2 linked regions of the Homo sapiens genome follow. The protein of the gene in region 2 interacts with the protein of the main gene of each other region in a biochemical or structural test. Each region holds a gene or a part of one and is shown on either strand. Other genes may lie near its edges.

The links. The genes of interacting proteins can lie anywhere in the genome.
Region 1: the proteins of PTPRH (region 2) and CNKSR1 form a complex in vitro, tested with the Homo sapiens proteins (one study listed by BioGRID).

What each region holds. Positions count from the first base shown.
Region 1 is NC_000001.11:26,180,460-26,187,490, reverse strand, and holds part of CNKSR1 (connector enhancer of kinase suppressor of ras 1), read right to left. Parts: coding exon 6,881-7,031; intron 6,777-6,880; coding exon 6,595-6,776; intron 5,635-6,594; coding exon 5,550-5,634; intron 5,131-5,549; coding exon 5,089-5,130; intron 5,012-5,088; coding exon 4,907-5,011; intron 4,295-4,906; coding exon 4,235-4,294; intron 4,146-4,234; coding exon 4,077-4,145; coding exon of another isoform or gene 4,056-4,076; intron 3,763-4,055; coding exon 3,661-3,762; intron 3,421-3,660; coding exon 3,350-3,420; intron 3,278-3,349; coding exon 3,204-3,277; intron 3,091-3,203; coding exon 2,984-3,090; intron 2,907-2,983; coding exon 2,879-2,906; intron 2,478-2,878; coding exon 2,305-2,477; intron 324-2,304; coding exon 250-323; intron 81-249; coding exon 9-80; intron 1-8. UniProt on the Homo sapiens protein: May function as an adapter protein or regulator of Ras signaling pathways.
Region 2 is NC_000019.10:55,180,741-55,185,526, forward strand, and holds the end of PTPRH (receptor-type tyrosine-protein phosphatase H isoform 1 precursor), read right to left. Parts: coding exon 4,762-4,786; intron 1,412-4,761; coding exon 1,276-1,411; intron 1,164-1,275; coding exon 1,014-1,163; 3' UTR 507-1,013; downstream 1-506. UniProt on the Homo sapiens protein: Protein phosphatase that may contribute to contact inhibition of cell growth and motility by mediating the dephosphorylation of focal adhesion-associated substrates and thus negatively regulating integrin-promoted signaling processes.

The sequences.
Region 1 (7,031 bases), on a different chromosome or scaffold from region 2:
GCACTCACATGCTCAGATCTGTCAGGGTATCAGCAGCGAAGATGAAGGGTTTGTACACATCATGGGTGAGCTGAAACACACTGCCAGGTAGTGGAGGAGCATCACTCAGCCTGGGCGTGCCCACCCACAGCCCAGAGAGGCTGGATTCTGGGCGCCCCAGCCACTTGCCACACCTCCCACTGCTACCCCATCACCCTTCCTCTCCCTTTCTGTCTCCATCCCCCAGCCCATCACACCCCAAGACTTAACTATTTCTTCTTCTGATCATGTCCACTTTCCAGACTATAGTTGGAGACATTGATGAGGCCCTCAGCCTTCTCATCCTGGGGGGATCACAGCATGAGGGTCAGGTTGGAACCCCAATACCCTCAAGGCCCAGTCAGCTCCTAGTTACCCCTCGGGCTCCTGAGAGTTGTGGAGAGGAGAAGGCATCTCCTGGGCTCTCTAACAAGTCTCTCTGTTTCTGGAGCTCAGGGCTGGAATCTGGGGTCAGGGTAGGAGATGTGGCCAAAGGATGCCTCTAAGCCAGGAAAGGGGAGCCAAAGATATCAGAGAAACAGCCAAAAAAAAAAAAAAGAGGAGCCTGAAGGCCGGGCATGGTGGCTCATGCCTGTAATCCCAGCACTTTGGGAGGCCAAGGCAGGAGGACCATTTGAGCCTAGGAGTTTGAGACCAGACTGGGAAAAAAGCCCATTTCTACAAAAAATTAAAAACTTAGGTCGGGTGTGGTGGCTCACACCTGTAATCCCAGCACTTTGGGAGGCTGAGGCGGGCAGATCATGAGGTCAGGAGTTCGAGACCAGCCTGGCCAACATGGTGAAACCCCATCTCTACTAAAAATACAAAAAATTAGCCAGGCATGGTGGCAGGTGCCTGTAATCCCAGCTACTCGGGAGGCTGAAGTAGGAGAATTGCTCGAACCTGGGAGGAAAAGGTTGCCATGAGCTGCGATTGCGCCACTGCACTCCAGCCTGGGCAACAGAGCGAGACTGCGTCTCAAACAAAACAAAACAAACAAAAAACTTAGCTAGGCATGGTGGCATGTGCCTGTAGTCCCAGCTACTCAGGAGGCTGAGGCAGGAGGATCGCTTGAACCTGGGAGGCTGAGGCTGTAGTGAGCTGAGATCATGCCACTGCCCTCCAGCCTGGGTGACAAAGCAAGACTCTGTCTCAAAAACAAAAACCAAAAAACCAAACAAGAAGAGCTTGCTCATGCATTTGTTCCTTCAGTAGACACAAACCAAACTGCTTCACACCCCTGAGCTTTCTGAATGCTGCTTTCTCTTCCTGGTTTTCTTTCCCCTTCCCATGCAACTAACTGCCAGGTATTGCATTGTCAGGGGGCATCTGGACTCCTCAGGATGGACTGGACACCTCTGCTGTGCTCCCACATATCCCTTGGGCTTTCCCTTTATCTTAGCACACGGTCCCTACATTGTCCTTGAGTGTGTATTCATCCCTCTCCCCTACTAGCCTCTAAGTTCTGGAGAAGCAAAAATCATCCAATTCTTCTCTGTGTCCATAGTGCCCAGCCTAGAGCTGGGTTCACAGTAGGCACCTGAATCCTGAATGAATAAATGAGTAAATGAATGGCCCATCATTCGGATGGACAGAATATCAGAAGGATAAGGAGAAGTGGGCAGAATAGACGTGATTTTTCGGCCAGATGTGGTGGCTCACGCCTATAATCCCAGCATTCTGGCGGGCTGAAGCAGGCAGAACGCTTGAGCCCAGGAGTTTGAGACAAGGCTGGGCAACATAGCAAGACTCCATCTTGCTATGTTGCCCAGATTTTTCAGGGCCGGGTGTGGTGGCTCACGCCTGTAATCCCAGCACTTTGGGAGGCCGAGGCAGGTGGATCACGAGGTCAGGAGATCGAGACCATCCTGGCTAACACGGTGAAACCCTGTCTCTACTAAAAACACAAAAAATATGCTGGGCGTTGTGGCGGGCGCCTGTAGTTCCAGCTGCTCGGGAGGCTGAGGCAGGAGAATGGCGTGAACCCGGAAGGTAGAGCTTGCAGTGAGCCGAGATGATGCCACTGCACTCCGGCCTGGGCAACAGAGTGAGACTTTGTCTCCAAAAAAAAAAAAAAAAAGATTTTTCTCTATACCTCCTATGATACCTTTTCCAAACTGCTTTTATACATATATTAACTCATTTCTCTCTGAATAAAGTCCCCATTTTACAGATGGGGACATCAAAGCCTTGGACCAGGAATAAGAGTGGATGATAGAATAGAGATGAGAATCGAGGCCTGGAAGTGACTCACTTGCCTACCTGTTTTTGTGTATGGGGTCTTACCTGGGGCTGGCGGTACCAGTAGAGCGTGTGTCCCTTGAGCACAAACCAGCGGCGGCGCCAGCGCGGGCCCATGAAGCCGCCCGGTGCCTTTCGCAACAGGAGCCAGCCGTCACAGTCCGGCCGGCCCAGCTCACGGCATGACACCCGCCGGCGGCTCAGCCGGGTCGCCAGGCCTGTAGCAGCACAGCACAAGCTGGGCAGTGAGGGGCTGGCAAGGTGCCCCCGCTAAACCTACTCCCTGCCTTCCACAAGCATCCCCAAGTGAGATCTCTGAACCCACACTCTGCTCAGAATGCTACATGTGTCATCTCTGAGGTGGGATGACCCTTCTTATTTTAGAGATGAGCAAACTGAAGACTAGAGGCTAACCTGTTTGCTCAGTCACAGCAAACAGGTTAGCCTCTAGTCTGGTGAGAGGCCCAGACTGGGAGCACAGCTCTGTCTGACCCTAGAAACAGAGCTGTTTCCAGGAGAGGCTGTGTGGGAAGGATGGGGGTGGTCTTGCCCAGCATGTAAAGATTTTTAACAGCTCCTCAAACAGGGGAACCCCCACCTAGTCCAGCGCACCTCATACCTTTTGATTTCTTCCGACCAACAGGACTCTGAAAGGACAGCAGAAGGGTGAGAGAAGGATCTAGGTCCAGACCCACCCACCCCCTTGCTAAGCCCCTGAGCTTACCTTGTCAGGGGATTCAGGGAGCCCTGGAGTCCCTGCTACCCCTGCTGGGAGTATGGCTGGGGGTTCCGGGGGGATGGGCAGGGGCTCAGGGCCAAGGGAGGCAGAGTCTGTCAGGGAGGGAGGAGAGAGAGGGAAAGTCTATGAGCCCAGTCCCAGGCTTGGGGTCAGAACTGGGTGCCCAGATGCCGTGTCCGGGGCATCCATGGAGCTTTGAGACTACCTGTCCAGGCAGGGCTGGGTCCGGGACTGGGGTTTGAAGACAGGTCAAAGGCAAAGACGTCTTCAGATGGGGCCCTGGGGAGGGCAAGGGGGATGAGATGAGCCCACGGTCTCCCCACCAAGACACACCTGGACAGAGCCTGTTACCTGGGAGACAGTGGGGCCAGAGACAGTGATGGGCTCCTCTGGTGCGGGGAGTCCAGGACCTGAGGGGGCGTCTGGGGAACAACCAGGAACAAAGCAATGGAGACAGGGGTCTGAAAGCAGGTTGGGGGGCAACAGGGGTAGGGGAGCAGCAGGAGCAGGTACCTGTGGGGGGGTCTGAAGGGAGCTAGGGGGGCGCAGCAGGGGAAGGTGCCTGTTGGGGGGGGTCTGAAGGCAGGTGTGGGGGTGGTGGGGGCAGGTACCTGTGGAGGGGGGGGTCTGAAGGCAGGTCGGGGGGCGGCAGGGGAAGGTACCTGTGGGGGGGTCTCCGGTATCGGGATCTTCTTCAGCACTAAGCTGAGTCCGGCTGGCTCCCGCAGCAGTTCCCTCACCATGTTCTTACGGGGCCATCCCACCTGGGGGACAGAAACACTGGCTGGTATCAACCTGGGCAGGAGGCTCTAAAGCAACCACCAACTCTCACCCTCGTGCTGGGAGCTCTCTCTCAGCCTCCCACTTCTGCCTCCCACTCATGCAGCCTCCTGGGGGCTTCCATGGGCCCCATCACCTGGGCTCTGCAGAGGATGCTCTCACCAGACTTAGCTGGCTCATCTCCTGGAAGGCAGCTCCCACAACCCTGGTCAGAACCCTTGGTTGCCTCCCCACCCACCAGACTTGGGTTCCACTCGGTGACCCCTTCACCTCCTACCATGTCCCTCTCCTCACGCACCACCACCTGCTCGTTGATCTGGACAACCTCGTCTCCAGGCTGGATCTGCAGTCGGGAGTCAGTGGGAACCTGACGTGGGGAATGGGGCCTGAGGTTGGCCTGGCTTGCAGGTGAGAGGCCTCGGGGATGGGCGGCTGAGAAGGGTGTGGGGCTCTCACCTGGGTGTCCACTTGGGACACAAAGTGCTGGCAATTGCTGGTGGTGTGAATTTCTAGGCCCTGCAGAGGCAGAGGCTATAGTCACCGGGGGCTGGGGGGCAACAGGGCCAATAGGCAGGACCCCCGCCAGACACCAGGACTCTATGGTGGGTGGAACTGTGGCAAGAGCTGACCCCAAGCTGGTCCTGCCCAGACTTGCTGTATGACTTTGGACTTGCTACTCCTGTGGGCCTCTGCCTTCTCCTCTGCTAAGAGCCAGAGGGAAGCTGGAGACCCTGATTTCTGAGGTACCAGCTTCTCAGCAACATTCCTAAAGGGACAAGCAGGGACAGGGCAGGGATAGGGCTCTGGTCTTCCCCACTGGTCAAAGATTAAACCAAGAAAGGTCACATCCTCTCCCTTTCTCCTAACTGCCCCCAAGCCCCTGCCCCGTCTCCATCCCAAGGCTGGAACACACTACCTGAGGCCACACCCGCGTGGCCCCTCAGGACTGGGGAGGTGCAGAGCAACGGGAGACCCTGGCCAATCCTCTGGGCCTCCATTTTAGCATCTGTACAAAAAAGGCTTTCCAGCCATGGCAGCACAGGGTTCTGTGGGATCCTGGACCCTATTTCAGGGCCCAGACAAGGCTGCCAAGGGGTCAGAAGTGAGAGGTGGGAGGGCAGGGCTCACCAATGGACTGTCCAGCTGCACCTGCTCGAGCACGGCCTTCTGTTCCAGCAGCTCCTTGGGGCAGCAGACCAGGATGTTGTGGCAGATCCCAGCCACGTGGCTGCACTGGGGGAGGGGAGCGGGCTATGTAGCCTGAGCCCGATCGCCCCTACCCCCACTCTCTTCCCACCCCACAGACTCACGATCCTCAGGACTGTGCCCTCCTTCTCAGCCGCTGGACCATCCTGGAAGTAGAATGAGAGAGCAGGGGCCTCCCCTGAGCAAGGGCCATAAGGGGACTGCCTTCTCCTGGGGGCAGGGTGGGATTCCGTACAGTCCCTCCCTGCCTTCCCTACACTGGCCCCCTGCCCAGAACCACAGGGCCTCAGCGTTTTAACCAGAGGGCTCGTTTCCCTGATACCAGGCCCCCAGAAGTCACCACACGTGCCCTCCCCTCCTTCCCTGTCCTGAGTGTCAAAATTCCCCTGCCAGCTAGGGGACCCCAGGCCCCATTGTCCCATACCCAGTGGCAGGGCCTCCTCTCCTCCTTTCTCGCCCGTCTCAATCCTCATACTCGATCCTGGGCTGATTCACAGGTTATAAAAAGCTCTAGCCCAGCTTGGTCTCTAGGGCATGGGCCAAGCCTGGCCCTTGGTTCTCCTACCTCATGCAAGACCTGGCTCAGCTCCTCCAACAAGTCTCGGATCTCCTGGCATGCTGAGAAATCATTTAAGTGGGAGAAGAGGTACCTGGCAGGGGAAGAATAGCACAGTGGTTAAGGGACTATGCTTAACCACTCAGAGCCAATTACTCACCAATTACTCACCTCAGAGACTTGGGGATAATACCTGCTCTGATGGGTTTTGGTTTAGAGTAAAGGAGATGATTGAGACATCTAAAGAGATTAGCACAGGACTTATTTGTCATGTGCCTACCACATGCCAAGCCCTGTTCTAGGCACTGGGGAAACAGACAGTAAAGACATCATACATCAATATCAATTTAACTTTGGCTGTAATGAGTATCATGAAACATTGGATAATGAGTTTATAATAAGTTATTATTTATTATTTATTAATAGTATAGCTTGGAGAGTGTACAACAGGGAAGGCTTCCCCGAGATGACATTTGAGGTGGGGTCTGTAGGACAAGCAGCAGCCAGTGCACAGGGTTGGGGAGGCTCTCCATTCAGTGGTTGTTGATGAGATCGATTATTACAAGCTGGAGGGTGGGGTGGGAACTCTGGCATCCCAGTGCCCCTGCACAGGTGGATTAATCCCTCTGCCCTGCTCCACCATATCTTTTTTTTTTTTTTTTTTTTTTTTGAGAGGGAGTCTCACTCTGTCGCCCAGGCTGGAGTACAGTGGCATGATCTCGGCTCACTGGAACTTCCACCTCCCAGGTTTGAGTGATTCTCCTGCCTCAGCCTCCCCAGTAGCTGGGATTACAGGTGCGCACCACCACACCTGGCTAATTTTGTATATTTTTGGTAAAGATGGGGTTTCACCATGTTGGCCAGGCTGGTCTCCAACTCCTGACCTCAAGTGATCTGCCCGCTTCGGCCTCCCAAAGTGCTGGGATTACAGACCTAAGCCACCACGCCTGGCTCACCATATCTGAACAAGAGCCAAGATCTGTTTTTCTCTCCCACGCCCTGAAGGAGGCCAAGGATGACAATAGTCCCTCACTCGTCACCCCAACCCGGGTACCTGCTGAGCCAGAAGAGGAGGGCGTCAGCTTCATGCAACAGCTCCACAGCTGCACAGAGGACATCAATAGGGGTCTTGGCACAGTCCCCCAGGCAGCCTTGGACTATGCTCTGGAAGTCATGGGTTGCCCCCAGAAGTCCCTCTGTCAGGCTTTGCAGGTTCTCTGTCTGTAGCCTGGAGCTCTGTGCCAGAAAGAGGGCAAGTCACCTCCCTGGCAGCAGCCAGCCCCCCATCACACCCCCCAGGTTGGTGGAAGCTGCAGCCAGTGTGACCAGCATTCACTCACCAGGGCCTGGAGCTGTTCCACCCCGCCCAGGATGAGCTCCTGGTGTCCCAGAGACCGCACAGCCAGAGCCTCGAGGCTTTGGGGGCAGAGCTGGAGCAGGTTCTTGCCAGGCAGCTGCCAGTCCTCAAAGGGATAGTCCTGCAGGGAGTCG
Region 2 (4,786 bases):
CCAGGAGCTGGAGACCAGCCTGGGCAACATAGCAAAATCCCGTCTCTACAAAAATGAGCCAGCGTGGTGGTGCGCACTTGTGATGGCAGCTACTCTAGAGGCTGAGGTGGGAAGATCACCTGGGCCCAGGAGGTCAAGGCTGCAGTGAGCCACTGCACTCCAGTCTGGGCAACAGAGCAAGACCATGTCTCAAAAACAAAAACAAAAACAGAACAAAACAACAACAACAACAACAGAGAAGAGTAAAAGAAAAGCTCAGAAGGCAAGTCCCCAAGCACCTAGCTCCAGCGAGCCCTGTCCATACTGCCCAGACCCTGGACACAGACGTCTGGACACTGCCTTCTCTGAGAGACTCAACCACCCAAACCTACATTTTTTCATGTGCAAATGTGTGGGTCCCTCTAGTCCCCTCCTGGACGTTCGCCTCGATCCCTAGATACCAGGAACCCATCCCTACTCCCAATCCAATATTATTTCCAGACCCAGAAATCCATGGGACAACTGTCTCTGGGGAGAACAGTGATTTAATAAATTATGGGATAGAAGGAAAAATACATGTGGATGGTGGGGTGCAGAGAGACCTTGGGCACAGGGACTCCCTCCGACCCCAGATTATAGAAGACTGATTTGGTTTCTGAAGTAAAATCAAGGCAGGATCCTTCCTGCCTTTGGTCCTCAAGTAGCCAGAACTCCAGACCCAAATTCCTTCCTGCCTCAGAATCCAGGCCCCAGCCTGTTTCTTTCTGCATCCTGGAAAGACCTAGGGAATCCAAGCTATCATCCCTCTCCTCCTTCAGGGAACCAGGAATCCAGATCCCCAGCTCCCATAGGACTCATCTGAAGCCCACCAGACCACTCTCTCCTGGGGAAACCAGAGTTTGGGATACCAGCCCCCTCCTCCCACAGCACCCAGGAGTCTGGGAGCCCAGCCCTCTGCTCTTCCAGGAATCTGGGCTCAAGTGGGTGTCCAGAGCTTGAGGATGCCTGGGCTGCCGACCCAGCCCCCTCGTCACTTAGACCTCCAACTTGTGGGCCTGGATGGCGGCCACGTTCTCGTAGATGAGGTTTTCGACATCCTCATACGGGACTTCCTTCTCGGCTGGGGCCTGGGCTGACTGTTGGAGGAACCGCAGGATGCACTGATGCAGGAATACGTACTGAGCCTGGGAAGCAGGCACGGGAGTGAGAGGCGTCCCCCCAGGTCTGAGCTGCGTGGAGCCCCAGGGTCCCTCGTCCCACTGCCTCCCGTCCTGTGTTGCTGAGGGACTGCCTCACCTCAGTCTGCACCATCAACGGCCGACTCTCTCTCATCTTCCTTACAAAGCTGAAGGGCCCAAGGAGACCCTCGGACTGCAGCTGCCGGAGCAGGACGTCCAGGGCAATGAGGGTTCCTGTGCGACCCACGCCAGCACTAGGCAGAACAAGGGAAGGGTCAGACCAAGGGGCAGGAGTGTGAGGGTCCGGGGTCATGGCTGATTGGAGGGATCTGTGTTTGAATGATGACAATAACTATGCCTGCTCACACCTGTAATCCCAGCACTTTGGGAGGCTGAGGCCGGTGGATCACCCAAGGTCAGGAGTTCCAGACCAGCCTGGCCAACCTGGCAAAACCGTCTCTTCTAAAAATGCAAAAATTAGCCGGGTATGGTGGCGCATGCCTGTAATCCCAGCTACTTGGGAGGCTGAGGCGAAGAATCGCTTGAACCCAGGAGGTGGAGGTTGCAGTGAGCCAAGATCACACCACTGCACTCCAGCCTGGGCGACAAGAGCAAAACTCCCATCTCAAAAACAACAACAACAACAACAACAAAACTGCCTGGAGTTCCTTCCATCTGTTAGGCTCTGTTCTAAGTGCCTGATGGGCCTTCTTCACTCCTCCCAAACCTAAGAAGTCGGATGTACTAGCTCCATTGTACAAATGGGGAAATGGAGGCTGAGTGAGGTGAAGTCCCATTCCCCAGGCCACTCAGCTAATAAGTGGCAGAGCCGGGGTTCAAATACAGGAAGAGGAACTCTCCAGCCAATCATTTAGTAATTCCTTTAAACACAAAAATTAGTCTTTTGTTTTGTTTGAGACAGGATCTCTCTCTGTCACGAAGGCTGAAGTGCAGTGGCATGATCTCGGCTCACTGCACCCTTGACCTCCTGGGCTCAAGTGATCCTCCTGTCTCAGCCTCCTGAGTAGCTTGGATCACAGGCATGCACCACTGCATCTGACTAACTTATTAACTTTTTAATAGAGACGGGGTCTTGCCATGTTGCCCAGGCTGGTCTCAAACTCCTGGACTCAAGTGATCCTCCCACCTCAGCCCCCCAAAGTGCTGGGATTACAGGCATGAGCTACTGTGCCCAGTGAAAAAATTAGCTATTTTAGGCTGGGCACAGTGGCTCACGCCTGTAATCCCAGCACTTTGGGAGGCTGAGGTGGGTGGATCACGAGGTCAGGAGATTGAGACCATCCTGGCCAATATGGTGAAACCCCGTCTCTACTAAAGTACCAAAAAAAAAAAAAAATTACCCGGGTGTGGTGGCGGGCGCCTGTAGTCCCAGCTACTCGAGAGGCTGAGGCAAGGGAATCACTTGAACCCGGGAGGCGGAGATTGCAGTGAGCCGAGATCACATCACTGCACTCCCAGCCTGGGCGACAGAGCAAGATTCCGTCCCCCACAAAAATAAATAAATAAATAAATTAGCTATTTTAAGCTGGGCGCACTGGCTCACGCCTGTAATCCCAGCACTTTGGGAGGCTGAAGCAGGCGGATCACCGGAGGTCAGGCGTTGGAGACCAGCCTGGCCAACATGAAGAAACCTCATCTCCACTAAAAATACCAAAATTAGCCAGGCGGGGTGGCAGGCACCTGTATTCCCAGCTACTCAAGAGGCTGAGGCAGGAGAATTGCTTGAACTTGGGAGGTGGAGGTTGCAGTGAGCGGAGATCGCACCGTTGCACTCCAGCCTGGGTGACATAGCGAGACTCTGTCTCCACAAAAAAAAATAGCTATTTGAACGTGAGCAATTTGTCACACTCACAACGCTGTGCAGCCCCCACCTCTATCTACTTGCAAAACACTTTCATCACCCCTAAAGCAGACACCACGCCCATTAGGCCGTCTCTCCCTATTGCCTGTCACCCTCCAGGGCCTGGAAGCTACTAATCTCTTCAGTGTCTCTGTTGCTTTGGCTGATCTAGATATGCTTCTGGATATGCACACTAATGGAATGATGTGATGACATCCACTCAGCTCTAAAATGGGGAGGACATTGCCGGGCACAGTGGTTCACGCCTGTAATCCCAGCACTTTGGGAGGCCGAGGTGGTCGGATCACTTGAGGTTGGGAGTTTGAGACCAGCCTGACCAACATGGAGAAACCCCGTGTCTACTAAAAATACAAAATTAGCCGGGCGTGGTGGCACATGCCTGTAATCCCAGCTACTCAGGAGGCTGAGGCAGGAGAATTGCTTGAACCCAGGAGGCAGAGGTTGCAGTGAGCCGAGATCATGCCACTGCACTCCAGCCTGGGCAACAAGAGCGAAACTCTGCCTCCAAAATAAACAAACAAATAAATAAATAAAATAAAATAAAATAAAATGGGGAGGACACCCTTTTGCCATGAGACTGTCATGAGGAGCAGTAGAACTGTGTAAATGTTCACTGTGACTGAAACCAGAGCCCCAGTCTCAGGGGCTGTTACTCTTCCTCATCTCCCTAATAGTTACCGTTAGGTGAAATCTGACCTACGGGACTTCAGCATAAATATCAGGAAAGGGTCAGGTGCGGTGGCTCACGCCTGTCATCTCAGCACTTTGGGAGGCAGAGGCAGACGGATCACGAGGTCAGGAGTTCGAGACCAGCCTGGCCAACATGGTGAAACCCCATCTCTACTAAAAATACAAAAATTAGCTGGGTGTGGTGGTGAGCAGCTGTAATCCCAGCTACTCGGGAGGCTGAGACAGGAGAATTGCTTGAACTCGGGAGGCAGAGGTTGCAGTGAGCTGAGATTGCGCCATTGCACTCCACCCTGGGCGACAGGGAGAGACTCCATCTCAAATAAAATAAAATAAAATAATAAAATAAAATAAAATAAATAAAATAAAATAAATATCAGGGAAGCAGTTGATGGGGGAGGCCCTGCACTCCAGCACAGGGAAGTGTCTCCAGTGTTTCTCAGAATCTGTGGCCACATCCCCATCCTGTGGCTTCATCCTTTCTCCCTTCTCTTCTGCATTCAACCTTCTCTGCCTTTACCTTTTCATCTTTCTTTTTTTCCTTTTTTTTTTAATCGAGACAGAGTCACCCAGGCTGGAGTGCAGTGGTGCGACCTCAGCTCACTGCAACCTCTGCCTCCCGGGTTCAAGTGATTCTCCTGCCTCAGCCTCCTGAGTAGCTGGGATTACAGGTGCCCGCCACGACACCCGGCTAATTTTTGTATGTTTAGTAGAGACAAGGTTTGTATGTTGGCCAAGCTGTTCTCAGACTCCTGAACTCAAGTGATCCACCCGCCTTGGCCTCCCAAAGTGCTAGGATTTACAGGCATGAGCCACCGCTCCTGGCCTGCCTTTTCATCTTTCGTTCCCATCTTTTCATCCTTATCCCCTTTCTTTTCTTAATCTGCTTCACGCCCCCCTTTATCTTCCACATCCACCTCCTCCTTCTCTCCCTCTTCACCTCCCCTGTACGTTCCCAGGGTCCCGTCTAACACAACTGTCTGAGCCCCAAGGGAGCGGTTCTCTCAAGGGAGAGGGTCCTGGGCTGGTCCCCACCTGCAGTGCACAATGGGTGGGCCTC